Homo sapiens: one gene and its partner. The protein of the gene in region 1 interacts with the protein of each later gene in a biochemical or structural test. Each region holds a gene or a part of one and is shown on either strand. Other genes may lie near its edges.

Region 1 (9,739 bases):
ATAAATGTATACGTGGTCTTTTACACTTAACCTTGTTACACTTTGCATAATGTTTCTGAGGTTCATCCATGTTGTAGCATATATCACAACTTCAGTTTTTTAAATAACTGGATGATATTCCATAAATATACTGTACAATGTTTATCTATTCATCAACTGATGGACATTTATTGGGTTGTTACCATGTATATATAAACCTTTTTTTTTTTTTTTTTTTGAGATTGAGTCTTGCTCTGTTGCCCAGGCTGGAATGCAGTGGTGCAATCTCGGCTCACTGCAACCTCTGCTTCCCAGGTTCAAGTGATTCTCGTGCCTCAGTCTCCTGAGTAGCTGGGACTACAGGCGCATGCCACCATGCCCAACTAATTTTTCTGTTTTTAGTAGAGACGGGGTTTCGCCGTGTTGCCCAGGTTGGTCTTGAACTCCTGGGCTCAAGAAATCCACCTGCCTTGGCCTCCCAAAGTGTTGGGATTACAGGCGTGAGCCACCACCCCAGCCTCCATGTATAAACATTTTTATCAGATTCTTAAAAAGTATTTATTTACTTTTTTTTTTTTTTTTTTTGAGACAGAGTCTTGCTCTGCCACCCAGGCTGGAATGCAGTGGCATGATCTTGGCTCACTGCAACCTCCGCCTCCTGGGTTCAAGCAATTCTCTGCCTCAGCCTCCCGAGTAGCTGGGATTACAGGCGCCTGCCACCATGCCTGGTTAATTTTTGTATTTTTACTAGAGACGGGGTTTCACCCTCTTGGCCAGCCTGGTCTTGAACTCTCCTGACCTTGTGATCTGCCAACCTCTGCCTCCCGAAGTGCTAGGATTACAGGCCTGAGCCACCGTGCCTGGCCACTTTTTTTTTTTTTTAGATGGAGTCTCACTCTGTCACCCAGGCTGGAGTGCAGTGGCATGATTTCGGTTCGCTGCAACTTCTGCCTCCCAGGTTCAAGTGATTCTCTGGCCTCAGCCTCCTGTGTAGCTGGGATTACAGGTGCACGCCACCAAGTCTGGCTAATTTTTATATTTTTAGTAGAGACAGGGTTTCACCATATTGGTCATGCTGGTCTTGAACTCCTGGCCTCAAGTGATCTGCCTGCCTTGGCCTCCCAAAGTGCTGAGATTACAGGTGTGAGCCACTGTGCCCAGCCTGTTGTTTTCTCTCTTGAGACAGAGTCTCACTTTATCACCCAGGCTGGGGTGTAGTGGCTCGTCTCAACTCACTGCAACCTCCACCTCCCAGGTTCAAGTAATTCTTGTGCCTTAGCCTCCTGAGTAGCTGGGATTATTGAGGTGCGTGTCACCACACCCAGCTAACTTTTTTTATTTTTGGTAGAGACAGGGTTTTGCTATGTTGGCCAGGCTGGTCTCGAACTCCTGGCCTCAAGTGATTCTCCCGCCTCCACCTCCCACGGTGCTGGGATTACAGGCGTGAGCCAGTGCTCCTAGCCAGGACTTTTTTTATATACAAAGAAGAAATGTCAGGGAGTGCCTGTTTAAAGTAGAAATAGTTATATATGCAGTAGGAATTGTTCATTTAAAATACAAGCATCTCCATCCTACCACATTTAGGAGCTATGCTGAATATTGTGGGAGAGGTAAAGATGTTGAGTTTGACTCAGGGATGGAAAGAAAGGAGTTGAGAACAGTGGTGGTATTGGACAGTGCTTTGCAGTCAGGCAGTTGCGTCCGAAGTACTCTGCTAGTTATTAGCTTGTGTGCCATGTAAGCTATTGATTAAACCTGTCTGAGCCTCAGTTTCCCCATCTGTGAAACTGGAGTCGTAACAGACCCTTCTATTTAAAGTGGTTTTGAGGCTTCAGTGATGCCCGGCCCATGCTTAGCCAAGTGTGGTGGACAGAACAGTGGTGCTCAAAAGATGTTCATGTCCTCATCCCCAGAACCTGGAAATATTTTAATGGCCAAAGGAGCTCTGTGGGTTTGATTAAATTAAGGATCTTGAGATGGGGAGAGTGCCCTGGATTATCTGGTGGGCCTCACGTAACCCCCAGAGGCCTTATAAGGGAAAGAGGGAGGCAAGAGAGCTGGAACCAGAGCTGTGAAGATGCAAGCAGAGCCTGGAGTGATGCCAGCGCTTTCAGCAGCTTTGAAGACGAGGAAGGGACTGTGAGCCAAGGAAGGCAGGTGGCCTCGAGAAGCCGAAGATGCAAGGAGACACGTTCTCCTCTAGTGCTCCCGGAAGGAAGGAATGCAGCCCTGCCGCATCTAGATTTTAGCCCTGTAAGGCCGAGTTTCAGACTTTTGACCTCCAGATCTGTAAGATATTAAATTTGTGTGTTTTTTTTTTGTTTTTTTGAGACGGAGTTTCGCTCTTCTTGCCCAGGCTGGAGTGCAGTGGTGTGATCTCGGCTCACTGCAACCTCCGCCCCCCCGGTTTAAGCAATTCTCCTGCCTCAGCCTCCTGAGTAGCTGGGATTACAGGCATGCGCCACCACGCCTGGCTAATTTTGTATTTTTAGTAGAGACGGAGTTTCTGCATTTTGGTCAGGCTGGTCTCGAACTCCCTACCTCAGGTGATCCGCCTGCCTCAGTCTCCCAAAGTTCTGGGATTACAGGCGTGAGCCACTGCGCCTGGCCAAATTTGTGTTTTTAGCCACAAAGTTTGTGCTAATTTGTACAACAGTAACAGGAAACTCATACACCAAGCACCTGGCACATGGTGAGAATCCGAAAATGTTAGCCATGATGATCCTCTTGTGACAGATGGGACACCCAGGCAAGCAGCAGAGAAGGGGCTCAACAGGGCCACTTGGTAAGGGAGGACAGAGCCAGAGTTACTGCTTAATAACTCTTGAGTAGTAACTTCTGCAAACGGTTGCTGGGCGCCTGTTCTGCGTCTGTCTGTACATCCATTGGGAATGCAGTAGAGGCCTGCTGTGTTAATGATATTCGCAGCTGACATTTATGTAGTGTTTGCTCGGTGCCAGGCAGTATTCCAGGCACTTGGTATGTTATTTCTCATTCTTGGTATGGATTTGAATGTTCTCAACAACTTTATGAGATAGACGTTGTTATTGTCCCCATTTCATAGGTTCGAAAACTGAGGCACAAGGGGTGAAATGAAACCATTTGCTCCAGGATCACACAGCAGGAAATCAGCAGAGCTGGGAAGGACCAGACACTGTTCTTGGCCTTGGGGACACAGTAGGGAACAACTCAGACGATACTGTCCTTGCTCTTGTGGAGCTTAAAAGTCTGGCGGGAGAGACAGATGCTAGACAAATACAAACAAAAAAGATGTAACTGTGTAACACCAGGCAGTAATCATGAAGAAAAGTAAAGTCGGGTAGGGAGATAGAGAGTGGCACCAGGTAGGGGGCGAGGTAGGTTACTTATGGTCTGAAGTGACATCTGAGTGGGCACCTGAAGCACAGAAGGCAAACTTTTACCCAGCTATGGATATGTTTGAGGGAAGAGTGGTCTAGGCAGGGGGATTGGCAGGTGCAGAGGCCCTGAGGTGGGAAGGAGCCAGACTGTTCTTGGCACAGAAGGGAGGCCGTTGTGGCTGGTGGAAAGTCACCAAGCCTGGCCTGGGGAGCAGTCAGACTGGGACTTCTTGTTATTGTTGTTTTTGTTGTTGTTGTTGTTTTTGAGACAGAGTCTCACTCCATCGCCCAAGCTGGAGTGCAGTGGCACAATCTCGGCTCACTGCAACCTCTGCCTCCCGGGTTCAAGTGATTCTCCTGCCTCAGCCTCCCCAGTATCTGGGATTACAGGCGCTCACCACCATGCCCGGCTAATTTTAATTTTCATATTTTTAGTAGAGACAGGGTTTCACCATGTTGGCCAGGCTAGTCTCAAACTCCTGACCTCAAGCGATTCACCTGTCTCAGCCTCCCAAAGTGCTGGTATTACGGGTGTGAGCCACCACACCTGGCCCAGACTGGGACATCTCATGAGCCCAGGCAGCACTGTACACTGCCCAGGGCCCAGGGCTGGGAATGGCGGTGGAGGCAGGGGAGTCAGCAGGAGGTCTGCCGGCCTCAGCCTTAGGCAGGCCCTTCCTCCAGCACCATCTTCCTCCTCTAGCACGTCAGTGGTGTGATGGAGGAGCACGCGTGGACTGTTGCCAGCCTGCCTGGGTTCCGGTCCGGCTTTGCCACCCACCAGCTGTGAAGTTACATAACCACTTCCTGCCTCCGTTTGCTCATGTGTAAGATGGAGATAATTATAGCAACTGCCTGGCAGAGCCATTGCAGGAGAGTAGATACATGTATTATTAGCAGGAGTCTGGCACACCAGGAGCGCTCAGTGCACTCGGATGTTGGCCGCAGTTGTGGTTATAGTTGTTAATTCTGTGTCATCTCAACTTCCTTCAGAGGGAGGGTAAGTTTTTTTTTGAAGACAAGGTCTCATCACTCTGTCGCCCAGAGTACAGTGATGCGAACATGACTCACTGCAGCCTTGACCTCCCCAGGCTCACGCGATCCTCCTTCCTCAGCCTCCTGAGTAGCTGGGACCACAGGTATGTGCCACCATGCCTTGCTAATTTTTGTAATTTTTGTAGAGACAAGGTCTGGCTATGTTGCCCAGGCTGGTCTTGAACTCCCAGCCTCAAGTGATCCTCCCACCCCAGCCTCCCAAAGTGCTGGTTATAGAGACGTGAGCCACTGCGCCTGGCCAAGGAGGGAGGGTTGTTAATGACCATCTTCCCTTTTTGCATGTGAGGAAACTGCCTCACAGAGACGTTGAATACGTCACCCAAGGTTGTGCAGGTTGGAAATGGCATTGCTGTATTTGAGCCCAGGCCTACCTCACCCCAAGTCCAGGCTCCCTCCTTCCATACAGTGGTGTTCCTGTTGATAGCAGTGTGCAGGTGATGTCTAGATGATCTGACAGGGAGGCAACAGAGCAGATTGGAGCATCTGTCATCACCAGGGGTGGGAGAGGGCAGTGTAGGGTGGACTAGGTACCTTGGTTTTTTTTTTTTTTTTTTTTGTGACAGAGTCTCGCTCTGTCACCCAGGCTGGAGTGCAGTGGCATGATCTCTGCTTACTGAAACCTCTGCCTCCTAGGTTCAAGAGATTCTTGTGCCTCAGCCTCTTGAAGAGCTGGGACTACAGGCATGTGTCACCATGCCCGGCTATATTTTATATTTTTAGTAGAGAAGGGGTTTTGCCATGTTGGCCAGGCTGGCCTCAAGTGGTCCACTGCCTTGGCCTCGCAGAGTGCTGGATTTACAGGCTTGAGCCACTGCACCTGGCCCAGGTACCTTTGAGAGTTGTAATAATGCGTCATTCTAGGATCCTAATAAAAGAGCCCCAAACTGGAAGGCAGGACACTTGCCTCAACCTAACTGCCTCCCGTGCCCGCATGGCCCGCACGGCTTTCTGCATCTTCATCTGTCAGACAGGAATGGCAGATCCTTTGAGATGAGCCCTCCTATAGGTAGCTCTTTTCTTCTTTCAACAAATAGTTGTCTAGCACTGACTAATAATACCTCCTGACTGACAGCAGATAATTGCCTACTCTTCGCCATGCCCTGTGGCCATTATTTATGTGCATGATCCTAGATATGGTGGTCATTCCCATTTTACAGATGAGAAAACTGAGGCTCCAAAAGGTTAACTGGTATGGTCATACAGCTAGTGTGCAGCACAGCTGGGATTCAAACCCAGGAACCAGCGGTGAGCAAGATCGGACAAAGCCCCTGCCCTCAGGGAGGTTTCCTGGAGTCCTCTGCGATTGTGGGTGAGGGGTGACATGTGCTGTTTGTCTGCATGATGATTTGAATAAAGTTATAACTCTGGCAAGTGCTTATCAAGGAGAGCTCTATGGCAGTGTGTGATAAGCTGACCTGGTGGAGTCTGGAGAGGTCAGGGAAGCAGGTATGTGTGAGGTGGGCGCGTATGCATTCATTCAGTGACTATTTTGTGAGTTTCTGCTCCATGCCATACCCTGTGCTGCATGGAGGGGACACATGGCACCATTCAACCCTGGTGTGCCCCCTCACAGAATTGACATTACAGGGACATGGTGATCCAAAGGAGATTCATCCTGAGGTCCCACAGTGAGCCCAGAGGCAGAGCAGGCACTGACAGTGGCCTCTCTCTCTGCCCACAGTTGGAGAAGGAGGAGCAGATACACAGTGTGGACATTGGGAATGATGGCTCAGCTTTCGTGGAGGTGCTGGTGGGCAGTTCAGCTGGAGGCGCTGGGGAGCAAGACTATGAGGTAAGCAGGGCTATGAGATGGATCCCATACTGACCTCTGCCCCTCATGCTCGCATCACCGTCTCCCCCAGGGGCTGGGGCTGGGAAGACATGGGGCAGATGTGAGTCACACCTGATTGCTGCCCTCTGGAGGATCACCCAGTGTACGGAGGAGACAGAAGGCAGACACAGGGCGGTAAACTGCACATCAGGGAAGAGAGCAAGTTTGGATCATGGCTTAAAATGACACAAATGTATTATTCGACTGTTCTGGAGGTCAGAAGTCTGAAATCACTCTCACTGGGCTAAAATCTAGGTGTAGGCAGAGCCCTGTTCCTTCTGGAGGCTCTAGGGGAGAATCCATTTCCTTGCCTATTTCAGCTTCTAGAGTCCATCTGCCCTCCTCAGCTTGTGACCCTTCCTTCATCAAAGCCAGCACTCCTGTCACTCTAACGCCTGCTTCCACTTCCATTGTTACTTCTCCAACTCTGACTCTCTTGCCTTCTTTTTTTCTTTTTCTTTTTTTTTTTTTGAGACGGAGTCTCGCTCTGTCGCCCAGGCTGGAGTGAGTGCACTGGCGCGATCTCAGCTCCTTGCAACCTCTGCCTCCCGGGTTCAAGCTATTCTTCTGCCTCAGCCTCCCGAGTTGCTGGGACTACAGGTGCCCACCACCACGCCCGGCTAACTTTTTTTTTTTGTATTTTTAGTAGAGACGGGGTTTCACCATATTGGCCAGGCTGGTCTCGAACTCCTGACCTCGTCATCTGCCCGCCTCAGCCTCCCAAAGTGCTGGGATTACAGGCGTGAGCCACTGCGCCTGGCCTTCTTTTTCTTTTGTTCATTTTTTTTTGAGACAGGGTTTCATTTCCGTTGCCCAGGCTGGAGTACAGTGGCGTGTTCTCAGCTCACTGCAACTTCTGCCTCTGAGGTTCAAGTGATTCTCCCACCTCAGCCTCCCAAGTAGCCAGGGCTACAGGTGCACACCACCACTCCTGGCTAGCTTTTGTTATTTTTTATAGAGAGAGGGTTTCACTGTGTTGCCCAGGCTGGTCTCAAACTCCTGGGCTCAAGTGATCCACCCACCCCAGCCTCCCAAAGTGCTAGGATTACAGGCATGAGCCACCACACCCAGCCCTCCTTTCTTATAAAGACCCTTATGATGACACTTGGCCTACCCGGATAATCCAGGGGCATCTCCCCCATTTCAACATCTTCAAGTTCATCACATCTGCAAAGTGCCTTCTGCCACATTTCCAGGTTCAGGGATTAGGATGTAAACATCTTTGAGGAGCTGTTATTCTGCCTGTCTCCTATGTTTTCTTCTAGAAGCTTTCTATTTTTAGATTTTACATTTAGATCTCTGTTTCATCTCAAGTGAATTTTTGTGTATTGTGTGAAGCAGGGGATAAGGTTTATTTTTTCTGTATCTTTTTTTTTTTTTTTTTTTTTTTTGAGATGGAGTCTCACTCTGTTGCCCAGGCTGGAGTGCAGTGGCGCGATCTCGGCTCACTGCAAGCTCCACCTCCCGGGTTCACGCCATTCTGCCTCAGCCTCCGGAGTAGCTGGGACTACAGGCACGTGCCACCATGCCCGGCTAATTTTTTGTATTTTTAGTAGAGACAGGGTTTCACTGTGTTAGCCAGGATGGTCTCGATCTCCTGACCTTGTGATCTGCCCACCTTAGCCTCCCAAAGTGCTGGGATTACAGGTGTGAGCCACCGCACCCGGCCCTTTTCTGTATCTTTTTTATATGTTTGTTGACAATGCTTATTTATTTATTTTATTTATTTTAAGACAGAGTCTCACTCTGTTGGCCAGGCTGGAGTGCAGTGGCATGATCTTGGCTCACTGCAACCTCCGCTTCCCAGACTCAAGGGATTCTCCAGCCTCAGCCTCCTGAGTAGCTGGGACTATAGGTGTGAGCCGCCATACCCGGCTAATTTTTTAAAAAATTTTTTGTAGAAATGGGGTTTCACTACATTGCCTGGCTGGTCTTGAACTCCTGAGCTTAAAGTGATCCTCCCACCTTGGCCTCCCAAAGTATTGGGATTACAGACCTGAGCCACTGCACCTGGCTGAAAATACTTTGAAAAAAAAAAAAAGACTTGCCTTTTCTCATTGAATCATTTTGACTCCTTGTTGAGAATTAATTAACCATATGTATGGGTTTATTTCTGTACTCTCTTCTCTGTTCCATTGATATGTATAGTTTTCTTTATGCCAATACCAAACTGTCTCTTTTTTTAACCATATTATTTATTTATGTATATATGTATTTATTTATTTATTTATTTATTTATTTGAGATGGGGGTCTCACTCTGTTGCTCAGGTTGGAGTACAGTGGCATGATCTCAGCTCACTGCAACCTCTGCCTCCTGGGCTCAAGTGATCCTCCCGCCTCAGCCCCCCAAGTAGCTAGTGGGAGCCATCATGCCCGGCTAATTTTTAAATATTTTTTGTAGAAATAGGGTTTCACTGTGTTGCCCAGGCTGGTCTTGAACTCCTGAGGTCAGGTGATCCACCTGCTGCGGCCTCCCAAAGTGCTAGGATTACACATGTGAGCTGCTGTGTGTACCTGGCCTACTCTTTTTTTTTTGAAACGAGGTCTCACTTTGTCACCCAGGCTGGAGTGCAGTGGCACGATCTCAGCTCACTGCAGCCTTGTCCTCCCGGGTTCAAGTGATCCTCCTTCCACAGCCCCTCAAGTAGCTGGGACTACAGGCTTGCACCACCATGCCCAACTTTGCACTAGTCAGTGTGACAAGGTGAGAAAAAGAAAAAAGAAAACTATCTTTTTTCACAGATGGCATGATTGTCTATGCAGAAAATCCCAAGAGATCTAGACAAACTACAAGGTTTAGTAAGTGAAGGTCACAAGATGAGAAGTCAATATACAAAATAAACTGTATATTACACATCACTTCTGTGGTATTCTGGCCAAAGTGTGCAACCTAAATTAATCACAAGGAAACATCAGATACTTTGTACAATAAGTGATATCTGACAAAAATCACTGACCTCTACTCTTCAAAAACATCAAAGGCACAAACCCAAAGTCACAGGAGCCTTCCTTCCTTCCATTCTCCCTCCCCTCCTTCCCTCCCTCCTTCCTTTTTTTTTTTTTTTTTTTTTTTTTTTGAGATGGAATTTTGCTCCTGTTGCCCAGGCTGGAGTGCAGTGGTGCAATCTCGGTTCACTGCAACCTCCGCCTCCCAGGTACAAACGATTCTCCATCTTAGCCTCCCAAGTAGCTCGGATTACAGGCCTGTGCCACCATGCATGGCTATTTTTTTTGTATTTAGTAGGACAGGGTTTTCCCATGTTAGTCACCAGATGATAAATGCAGCTTCCCTGTCAGCTCCAAATCAGGCCTTTTATAAACAAGTATAGTCAAGGTCAGGAAGAAAACTTCCCTTCTGTATAATTGTCTTTCTTGTTTCCTTTGCATAATCAGCTGTGCACAAAGAGAGCTATAGTTATGTTCTGTTTTTCTCAGCAAAAGGCTTTATTGTCCAATTTTATAATTTCACAGCATGTCAGTTAGAAAAGAGACTAAGTCAGTAACAAAATATAC
Region 2 (9,739 bases), on another chromosome or scaffold:
ATTGTCTTGGGCCACACATAAAATGCATTAACACTAATGATAGCTGATAAGCTAAAAAAAAAAATCACATAATGTTTTAAGAAAGCTTATGAATTTGTGTTAGGCCGCTTTCAAAGCCATCCTGGGCCACATGTGGCCCACAAGTTGGATAAGCTTGTTCTAAGTAAACCCTAATAGGACGTCTTAGTATGTTAAGCACTATAAAAGCTTTCAAATATTTTGAGATAAACACTTGCCTTCAAAGATCTTGTAACTTGAAACAACAATAAGTTACAAAAGAAGGCATATGTTTTTAAAATAGCCAATTACACATTCCCTGCCTATTTCCTCCCCTAAAAGAATTGGCTGTGCACACATTTTGTTAGGTTTTCAGAAACTTTCATCCCTTTCGATTTAGGTCAAAAAAGTTAGTTTCCATAAAATTCCTGAAAATCTTTTTGTTCCAAGTTCCATATTTATTTAAAGCTCCAATTAAGAAAAAGAAAACAAGAAAGTGATCCATTTACAAGTAATAATTTAAGAAAGATTCTACTCATGATTCTATTCATGAGACTAAATAGAAAAATGGGCTGATGACCACCATTACTTTGGAAAAACAACAGCAACATCTTCATATAAGAAGTCTACATCTTAAACCATCTAAGTACCTTATGAACAAAGGACAGGATCATAAACTGAAAACATAAATAAAAACAGAGTCTGGTAAAATGAAAACAAGACACCCAACATGTCACGTGGACCAATGCCATGCTTTTAAATACATAATTCCAAACCTATTGTATTTGCTTTAAGTAAAATGGGCCCAAGAAGTCAGTTTTCCATCACATACAGCTCGTTTATCTACAGAAAAAAAAGTTTCCAACCTAAAAACATTATCCTCCACCCTACTTAATATGATTAATATTTTGCATGACTCTTACTCTTGCATTTATGAATAAACCAAAACACATAATTTCAAAACTAAGAAAGCAATTACAATCATCCCAGGAGAAGGCATGAATTATAATAACATAATTGGAAAGGCAAAACAATCCTGTTTGTGCAGGTATTTTGGTTCCATCATCAGAATGAAGTGAAGTTGGACAAAGTTAATCTGCAAACAATGGACACCAGACAGCTAAATGGTCATTATTTCATCTGAAGCACTCTTAACTATCAATTTGCCATAGCAATTTATAAATTCTGATTCTGTTTAGCCCATCAAGTATACTGTTAGTCTATCACCAACTAACAAATGGGCAGAAAAACTTAGTGATATTTCTTATTTAATTCTGAATGAGGCACATGCAATAAGTAAGATAGAGATAAAATGTGTAACAAGATAGACACAAAGTAACCCCAAACTGCTAGTCTACCTATAAGACATACTTCAAGGCTTTTTAAAAAACCATTTTAATCTACCCTACACAGTCTCTGTTTTGCAGTTCCAATGATCTTAAAATAGGTGGGAGACTAAATGTATGCAGATGATCATACCAATATGTAAATAAGAAAGCTTTTCCCCTCCCTTTGTGTAGAGCAAGTATTAATGCTAATCAAAAGAGGTATTCCCTATCTCATAAATGTCTCAGAAAATTCTAATTTTGAAAAAGGGAATTTATTTCCAGTTTACTAAACTAAGAATTTAATACACAGAAATTTGGAGTGACGTTAGTCCAATTCTATTAATAAGTATAATACATCATTTACTTTCAAAGACGTTTTTACTGAATTCTTCATGTGATATTCCAACTTTTAAGTATAAATCCCCTTCTTCCAATAGATAAACCATGTGAAATATTTCTGCCAGACTAATAAGAGTCTATTAATACTAAGTCTTCTTCTCAAGAAGACAAAATATAGAGGGGTATGGGCAGAGTTAGTGGAAATCTCCAAGAACTCAGATTTCCTTGAAACTTCTTGGACAACTAGTCAAATGAAAGGCAAAATTATTATAAGCAAAAAAGATCTTTAGTATGTGTAGTATTCAAGAAATTTTTAGCTTGCAATAAAAACTCCAAATATTAAAAATCAGATTTTTAAAGTCTGAATTTAGAATCCAATTACAGACACACAAAAAGGGAACAATCCTACATATAATTTCAAGGGGCTTAAGGATTTCTATGAAGCTGGTCCACATATGAACCACTAATGAGACAAGAGGAGTTCACTGAAAGGTTTTACGTCAGGAAATAACAGCCAGTTTAGTAGCTTCCAGACCATTTGAACAGCAGGTTGGAGGAAAGTTTGGTAATGCAGGAGGAGGTATGGCGAAAGGGAAACTAGAATATCCAGGTAGTAATGCAAGTATAAGATAATTAGAGGGAGGTTGCTGATGTAAGTTTCCAACAATAGAATAGAAGAATGCTAAGGAAAAAGAAATGAAAGCATTTGATTACTGATGGATGGTGACACATTCACCAAAATTCAGAATTTGAGGAGAGTTCTGTCTCAGACATAATGACTTTATTAAGGTCTCCAGGTGGAGATAGGTAGATGACAGCTGAATTTACTAGTTTGATACTCCAAGAATAAATCTGAGCTGAAAAAAGTCTGGTGACTCACCAACACATACATGGTCCTTGGAGCCATGAAAATGAGTAAATGCCCAAATTAAACCTGTAGAGAGAGCAGTCAAAAGGGCCAACCACAGAATCTTGAATTACTCCAATATCTGTGAGGTAAAATAGCCAGGAAGGGGTGTAAGGAATGGTCAGAGAAGAACAGGAAATAAAGATAGACCACCACCACAAAAGCCAACAAGGGAGACATTCGCAAAAAAGAATAATCAAGCAAGTTACTCTAAGTGACAAAAATTTCACCATACAATTCACTTTTGTGTGGTGCAAAAGTTGTGAACCCCACACACTTAATAGCTATTTTGATTTCCTAAACACCATCAATCCCAGTAAACTTTTACTCGGCCAAGACATCTTTCTTTCCCTATTCCCCAGAGACTATCATAAAACTTCTCCCTCCTAGTTTATCGATATACTAACACCTGTATCACTGAGAAATTAGGTAAGTCAAAAATAAATCCTGAAAATCTATCTTTACCTTTACTGTCTTATCATTATTCCTCCTGGCTCAATATGGGGTACTGCTACTTGTTTACAAAGCTAACCCCTCAACATCTAGTAAGTACTGTCCCCTAACTCCTCCAAGACTGATCAATATACTCTGTCCCTAAGTATCAAAATCAATTAAGATTGATTGTATGTTAAATAAATGTAAAATCTGGTAATATAGTAAGTACTAAATAAATGTTCACTCCCTGCACTTATTTTGAAGTCTCTTTCTCCTACCCTGCCTTCCCACATATTACTGTTCCCTGACTCCTCTAAAATGTGTTGATGATTAGGCAGCTGTTTCCCTCCTCATTCCCTTGGCTTGAAAAATATTTCCTAATTTTCTTTGACTGTTAAAATTCTACTCATTCTTTGAAGGCAAGGTGAAACTTATTCTGTTCATTCTGAACCCTTCAGATGAAATTAATCTCTTCCTCTGTTCAGTTTCAATAGCATCTGATTGTTACCTTAATATGGCATCTATTCCACTGTTTGTTAATTACATACATGTCTCATTTACTGGATCACAGTAAGTTCCTTGATGACCAGCACCTAGACTATCTGACCTATTAAGATTTTAAAAAATGTATACAGATAGATAAATGGACAGGATTAAATAAAATATATATTTTTAAAGACAAATGCTTATTAGTATCATTTTTCAATTATCAAATTTTCAATACTGAATAAAAATAATATGGTCATACTTTTAATAATAAATTAATTATTGTTAATACATATCATTACATGTAACCAGTATCATACTGGAAGAGTAGAAAGCAAGAGTTTTATGTCAAACTGGGAAAATGTGAAATAGCATCTACCAAGGTCACTCTTGCTCTAATAAGAAAAACACTGTAATTAAAAGTCAATAAAATATTCACTACATTTTTCATGAATGACATCAAGTTGCATAGGGCTTATATGAATTTAGAAAACAGAAATATATTCATAGTGAAAAATGTTTCATCAATACGGTGAAGTTAAATATGGACAAATCCAAGGTAGTGTGTAACACTTTAAAGCATATCATGCAAAGATAAATGATGAAAGCACAACTAGTAAAACTGGGGATCAGAGTGAAGTGATATGAATAAAATGCAGTGATGTATTATTACATTAAAAAAATCAATTATGTAGAAATTCCTTTAATTTAGTGAAACAAGTTTTTAGTAACTAGAGTTTTTATAACCTAGTAGTCTGTCTTATTTACAAAAGCTAGTACTACTTGCCTAGCTTAGTTATTTAAGAAAATTATTATGTAAAAAGAAGGTAGAACCCAGAGGACCTGGAGATCTATTTCAGCATTCTTTGAGCAAACTCCTGTGTCTTCAGTTTTTCTTATAGAGACTTTTCCTTTTGAGGAGACTTGGAAATCTACATTAACGATAACTTAATGTAAATAAATTGTTAATAAAGCACCTATAAGTCAAAAGAAAATGCTCATTTAATATAATTAAAACTACATATGACAGATACTCAATTTACCACACGTTAAACCAATCCATTTAATTTACTGCAGCACTGAAAAAAACCATGATGCTACACTTACATTTCTATTACAGATCCCACAGATGCCTGCCACAAAAATAAAGCATTTTCTTCACCAGCAGTCAGCCAGCTTACAGTATTTTCTCTTCCACTGCTGGTTCATTCTTTGTGCTGCAAAAGAAAAAAAGAGTAATTAAGATCAAGAGAATCAGTTAATTATGTATAATCCTTTCAAAAAATTCAGTGGAAAACTTTATCTTAAAAGTGGGAAAAATTAAAGACAAGATGCATGCTTTTACCACTGCTATTCAACATGACTGTAAGTTCTAGCAGAGCAAATTAGGGAAAAGAGATAAAGGCATACAGACGGGTAAGGAGGAAGTAAAACTATGTCTATTCTCTCTAGATAGAAGATCTCATAGAATCCCCAAGAAAGCTAATAAACAAATTCAGCAAAGTTGCAGGTTACAAGTTTGACACACAAAAAAATCAGTTGTGTTCTGATACACCAGGAGACAACAATCCAAAAAAGAAATCAAGAAAACAGTTCATTCATAAAGTAACTAAGGGAATAAAATAGCCAGGAATCAACTTAACCCAGGAGGTGAAGGACTTGTACACAGAAAACTATAAAGCATTACTGAAAGAAATTAAAGAAGAGCTAAGTAAATAGACAAGTGATGTATGGATTGGAAGACTTAACATATTAAAATGACAATACTACCCAAAGTGATCTACAGATTCAACATAATTCCTATCACAATTCCAACAACCTTTTTTGCAGAAATGGAAAAGCAATCCTCAAATTCATATGGAATTGCAAAGGACCCTAAGTAACCCAAACAATCTTGAAAAATCCAATGTCAAAACTTACTACAAAGCTAAGGTAACAAGACAGTTTGGTGCTGGCATAGGACAGATAAATACACCAATGATATAGAATTGAGAGTCCAGAAATAAACTCATACATCAATAGCCAACTGATTTTCCAAAAGGGTGTCAAGTCTACTCAATGGGGGAAAACAGGCACCTCTAACTAATGTTGTTGGGACAACTGGATTTCCACATGCAAAATAATTAAGCTGGACCTCTACCGTATACTATATATAAAAGTTAACTCAGAATGAATCAATAACCTAAATATAAGAAATAAAACCATAAAACTCTTAATAGAAAACACAGGAGCAAATCTTCATGGCCTTAGATTTGCAATGGATTCCTAGATATGACATCAAAAGCATGAGAAACATAGGAAATAAATTGGGCTTTATATAAGTTTAAAATTTTTGTGCATCAAAAGACACTGTTAAGAAAATAAAAAGACAAACTGCAGAATGGGAGAGTATCTTGGCAAATCATGTATCTGATAAAGGTTTAATATCCAGAATATGTAAAGAACTGCAGCTCAACAACAAAGACAAACCAATTAAAAAGTGAGCAAAAAATGAGTAAAGAACTTAAAGAAGATACACAAATGGCCAATAAACACACAAAAAGATCCTTAACATTATTAGTAATTAGGGAAATGTAAATCAAAATCACAATGATACATCTATAAGGAGGCTACAACTTTTTTAAAGGGAAAAATAATAAGTGTTGGTGAGGATGTAGAAAAATAGGACCTTTGAAAACTGCTGGTAGGAAGGTAAAAGGGTGTAGCTGCTGTGAATAATAATTTGTTGCTTCCTCAAAAAGCTAACACAGCAATGCCACTCCCAGGGATATAGCAATAGAATTGAAGAGGTTCTCAGACACTTGTATGCCAATATTCACTGCGGAAATATTAGGCAAAAGGTGGACACAATTCAAGTATCTACCAACAGATGAATGGATAAACAAAATGTGGTCTATAAATACAACAGTACATTATTCAGTAATAAAAAGAAATATGTGCTACAATATAGATGAACCTTGAAAACATACTAATAAGCCACATACAGAAAAGTATGATTCCACTTACATGAAATATCAAGAATAGGCAAATTCATAGAAGCAGAAGGTATCAGAAGTTACCAGAGAGTGAAGGAAGGAAAGTGGAGAGTTATTGCCTAATGGGTACAGAGTTTCTGTTTGTAATGCTAAAAAAAAGTTGTGGAAAATCTATAATGGTGATAGTTGCATAACATTGTAAATGAAATTAACTACATGGAATTGTACTCTTAAAAACCTGTACCATCTCAGTCATTAATCTTCTTTCTTCTCATTTAGTATTTCCATCTCCACCTCACCATGTCCACTACAGGACGCACATCATATTACACAGAATAATCAAGAACACATGATAACTAAAGAAATGATAGATCTCACAGTAAACACAAGATAGAGGAGACTTCAATCTTCTTTTATTTCCATGTGGCTCTCATACTATGGGCATCTATCTCCCTACGGTATCTTAAGATTCTAGTGTTTAAAGAAACATATTCTTAATGCCATTATGTGGCCCCTAAATACAAGCTGACTTATCCTACCAAATGTTTAACAGAACAAACAATTTGTTTTAAAATCAGAGAACTTTCAAAAGTAACTGACTGTGATGGTTAATACCGAGTGTCAACTTGATTGGAGTGAAGGATACAAAGTATTGATCCTGGGTGTGTCTGTGAGGGTGTTGCCAAGAGATTAACATTTGAGTCAGTGGGCTGGGCAAGGCAGACTCACCCTTAATCTGGTGGGCACAATCTAATCAGCTGCCAGTGAATATAAAGCGGGCAGAAAAATGTGAAAAAGAAAGATGGGCCTAGCCTCCCAGCCTACATCTTTCTCCTGTACTGGATGCTTCCTGCCCTCGAACATCAGACTCCAAGTTCTTCAGTTTTGGGACTCGGACTAGCTCTCCTTGCTCCTTGCAGACAGCCTGTTGTGGGACTTTGTGATCGTGTAAGCTAATACTTAATAAACTCATATATATATTCTATTAGTTCTGTCCCCCTAGAGAACACTGCCTAATATACTGACTAAACAAGGTTTCTAAGTAACCTTTTTGTTTTACTCTGACTTTAGATGAAATGGACTCCACTATTTTGACTTTCCTCTCAACCCTTTCACCAACTTCAAGGAGCCTACAACTTCAATGGCATCAAAGAAGGCTATGTTCATTTCCTTGCTGCAGCCTACGCCAAACAGAAAACTGCACATTTTCATACACTCCCTATATATAGGACAGGAGGAGACAATTTACTGCTCCAACATCATTACTTTTTCTTTCAAGTCTCTATCACACTGACTTTAACATACCCCATAATCCCCTAAAACTGCTCTCTCACCACCTGTAAGGGATTAATGTCATCTTTTCACTACTGATCATCCTCTTCATCCTAACTCCTGACATGACTATCAGCCTATTTAAATAGCCTTGAAAATGAACCATCCAACACCTATTGCACAGGTTCTTAAACTTGTCCCAACTTCTATTCATCAGAATCACTGAAATTGCTTGTTAGAAATACATATTCTCAGCCCCTTTCCTTAGAAATTCTAGGCCAGTAGACATAGGTTTAAACCTAGGAATCTCACCCCAGGTGGTACTCATGCTTTAGTCCTTCAAATACAATCTGAGAAACACCATCCTCAATTTTCAGTTCCTTAAATCCTAAATTTGAAGAAATTAATCTACTCTCCAGCAACCAAATATTATAATCACATTTAAAGCTAGTTGTCACCTAAACTGCTGCCTCTCTGAAATCTTAATCCGACTCTCAGATCACAAGCTCTGGTTCTTCCAGCCTACTCATTCCCACACCTGCTCTTCAATTTCATGGGGACCTACCATCTCTTGACCATCTCCTTTCCTTTATCCAGTTCCTGATCTCATTTCCTTTCCTGCCCATTCTGGAACCCAATCTTTTTTACTTCTTAACAGAACCCTTGGCCCCCTCATATCTTTATCTCATATACACACATTTTACAAACCCCCATTTCTGCATAATTCTTACAATATGACATCTCAGGTTTCATGTCTTAACTACTTTGTGTTCATGGAGAAAAAGAGAAAGTCCTTTCTCTCACCACACAGCCCCCTGCTCCCCCACCCCAACCAACCACACCATAAATTCTGTCAACTTTTATTCCTAATCCCTTTGGAATCTATCCTGTACTCTCTACCCATTGCTAGTGCCCTAGTTTAAACCTACATAACTCTCACCTGGACTATTGTTCAGCCTGATTATCTTGTGTCAGTATCACCCTCATTTATTAAGCCTTTGAGTGAGATTCTCTCTCTCTCACTCTCTCACACACACACACATACACTCACTCTACAGTCTGTTTCCCAGGCTAGAATGCTGTGGCATGATCATAGCTCACTAAAACCTCAAACTGCTTGGCTCAAGCGATCCTCCCATCTCAGCCTCCCAAGTAGCTAGGACTGACTGATATATTTAAAAGGCAAAATGGACCAGGTTTCTTCCATATGTGAAGCACAATATTGGGTCCTCAGCCTACACAATAAAGACAAAGCTCCTTAGGACAACATTAAAAGGTTTTAAAGATCTAAACTGTAAATAATTAGTCTCTAGTCTTTTTTATCTTCAACAACCACCCATAGATTAATAATCTAGTTGTATAAAATTACTCATAGTCCTGCAAACCTCCCTTTGTAGCTCTGTATTTCCTCCTGCCTGGTACGATCTATTCCCTTTTACAGCTTATGAATGCCTATTTGTTCTTTAATATATTACACAGAAATGGTTATCTCTACCATTTTCTCTGACTACCTCCAGAAAGTTAACTGTTCTCTCCTCTATGTTTTGTATGTTTTTCTATTACGGAATTTATCACATGCACTAATTTCAATTCATTTGTGAAGTCTGACTCTTCTGTGAAATCATGAATCCCCTGAAGATAGGGAGATTTTTATATCTTTAAATAGCTAGTAAATTGTCAATCAATTTTTGTTGAACTGATATTTTTTGGATGAATGAAAAATCAACTCCTAAAAGTAACTATTGTGAGGAACAGAATATCAAAGGATTAGATTTATTCAAATAACACAACACTTGAGTTCTAATTGTGAACTCAAGCTGGAATCTGTAAGATACATAAAAATATCTAAGTTCTAATCCTTGCTTTATATAACTTAAAATCTAAAGGAGTTCCTACATTTACAAATATAAAATTCAACCCATCTTTGTATCTTTTGGCAAGCAAATCATTTACCCAGCTATTGTTCATTGTCAATGAATTCTCCAAAATGGAGATAAAAA

Evidence for each region.
Region 2: of the proteins of XRCC1 (region 1) and RNF146, one has a biochemical effect on the other in vitro, tested with the Homo sapiens proteins (one study listed by BioGRID).

Annotation. Positions count from the first base shown.
Region 1 is NC_000019.10:43,557,357-43,567,095, reverse strand, and holds part of XRCC1 (DNA repair protein XRCC1), read left to right. Parts: intron 1-6,075; coding exon 6,076-6,186; intron 6,187-9,739. UniProt on the Homo sapiens protein: Scaffold protein involved in DNA single-strand break repair by mediating the assembly of DNA break repair protein complexes. Negatively regulates ADP-ribosyltransferase activity of PARP1 during base-excision repair in order to prevent excessive PARP1 activity.
Region 2 is NC_000006.12:127,275,201-127,284,939, reverse strand, and holds part of RNF146 (E3 ubiquitin-protein ligase RNF146), read right to left. Parts: intron 4,710-9,739; 5' UTR 4,602-4,709; coding exon 4,600-4,601; intron 4,425-4,599; exon of another isoform or gene 1-4,424. UniProt on the Homo sapiens protein: E3 ubiquitin-protein ligase that specifically binds poly-ADP-ribosylated (PARsylated) proteins and mediates their ubiquitination and subsequent degradation. May regulate many important biological processes, such as cell survival and DNA damage response.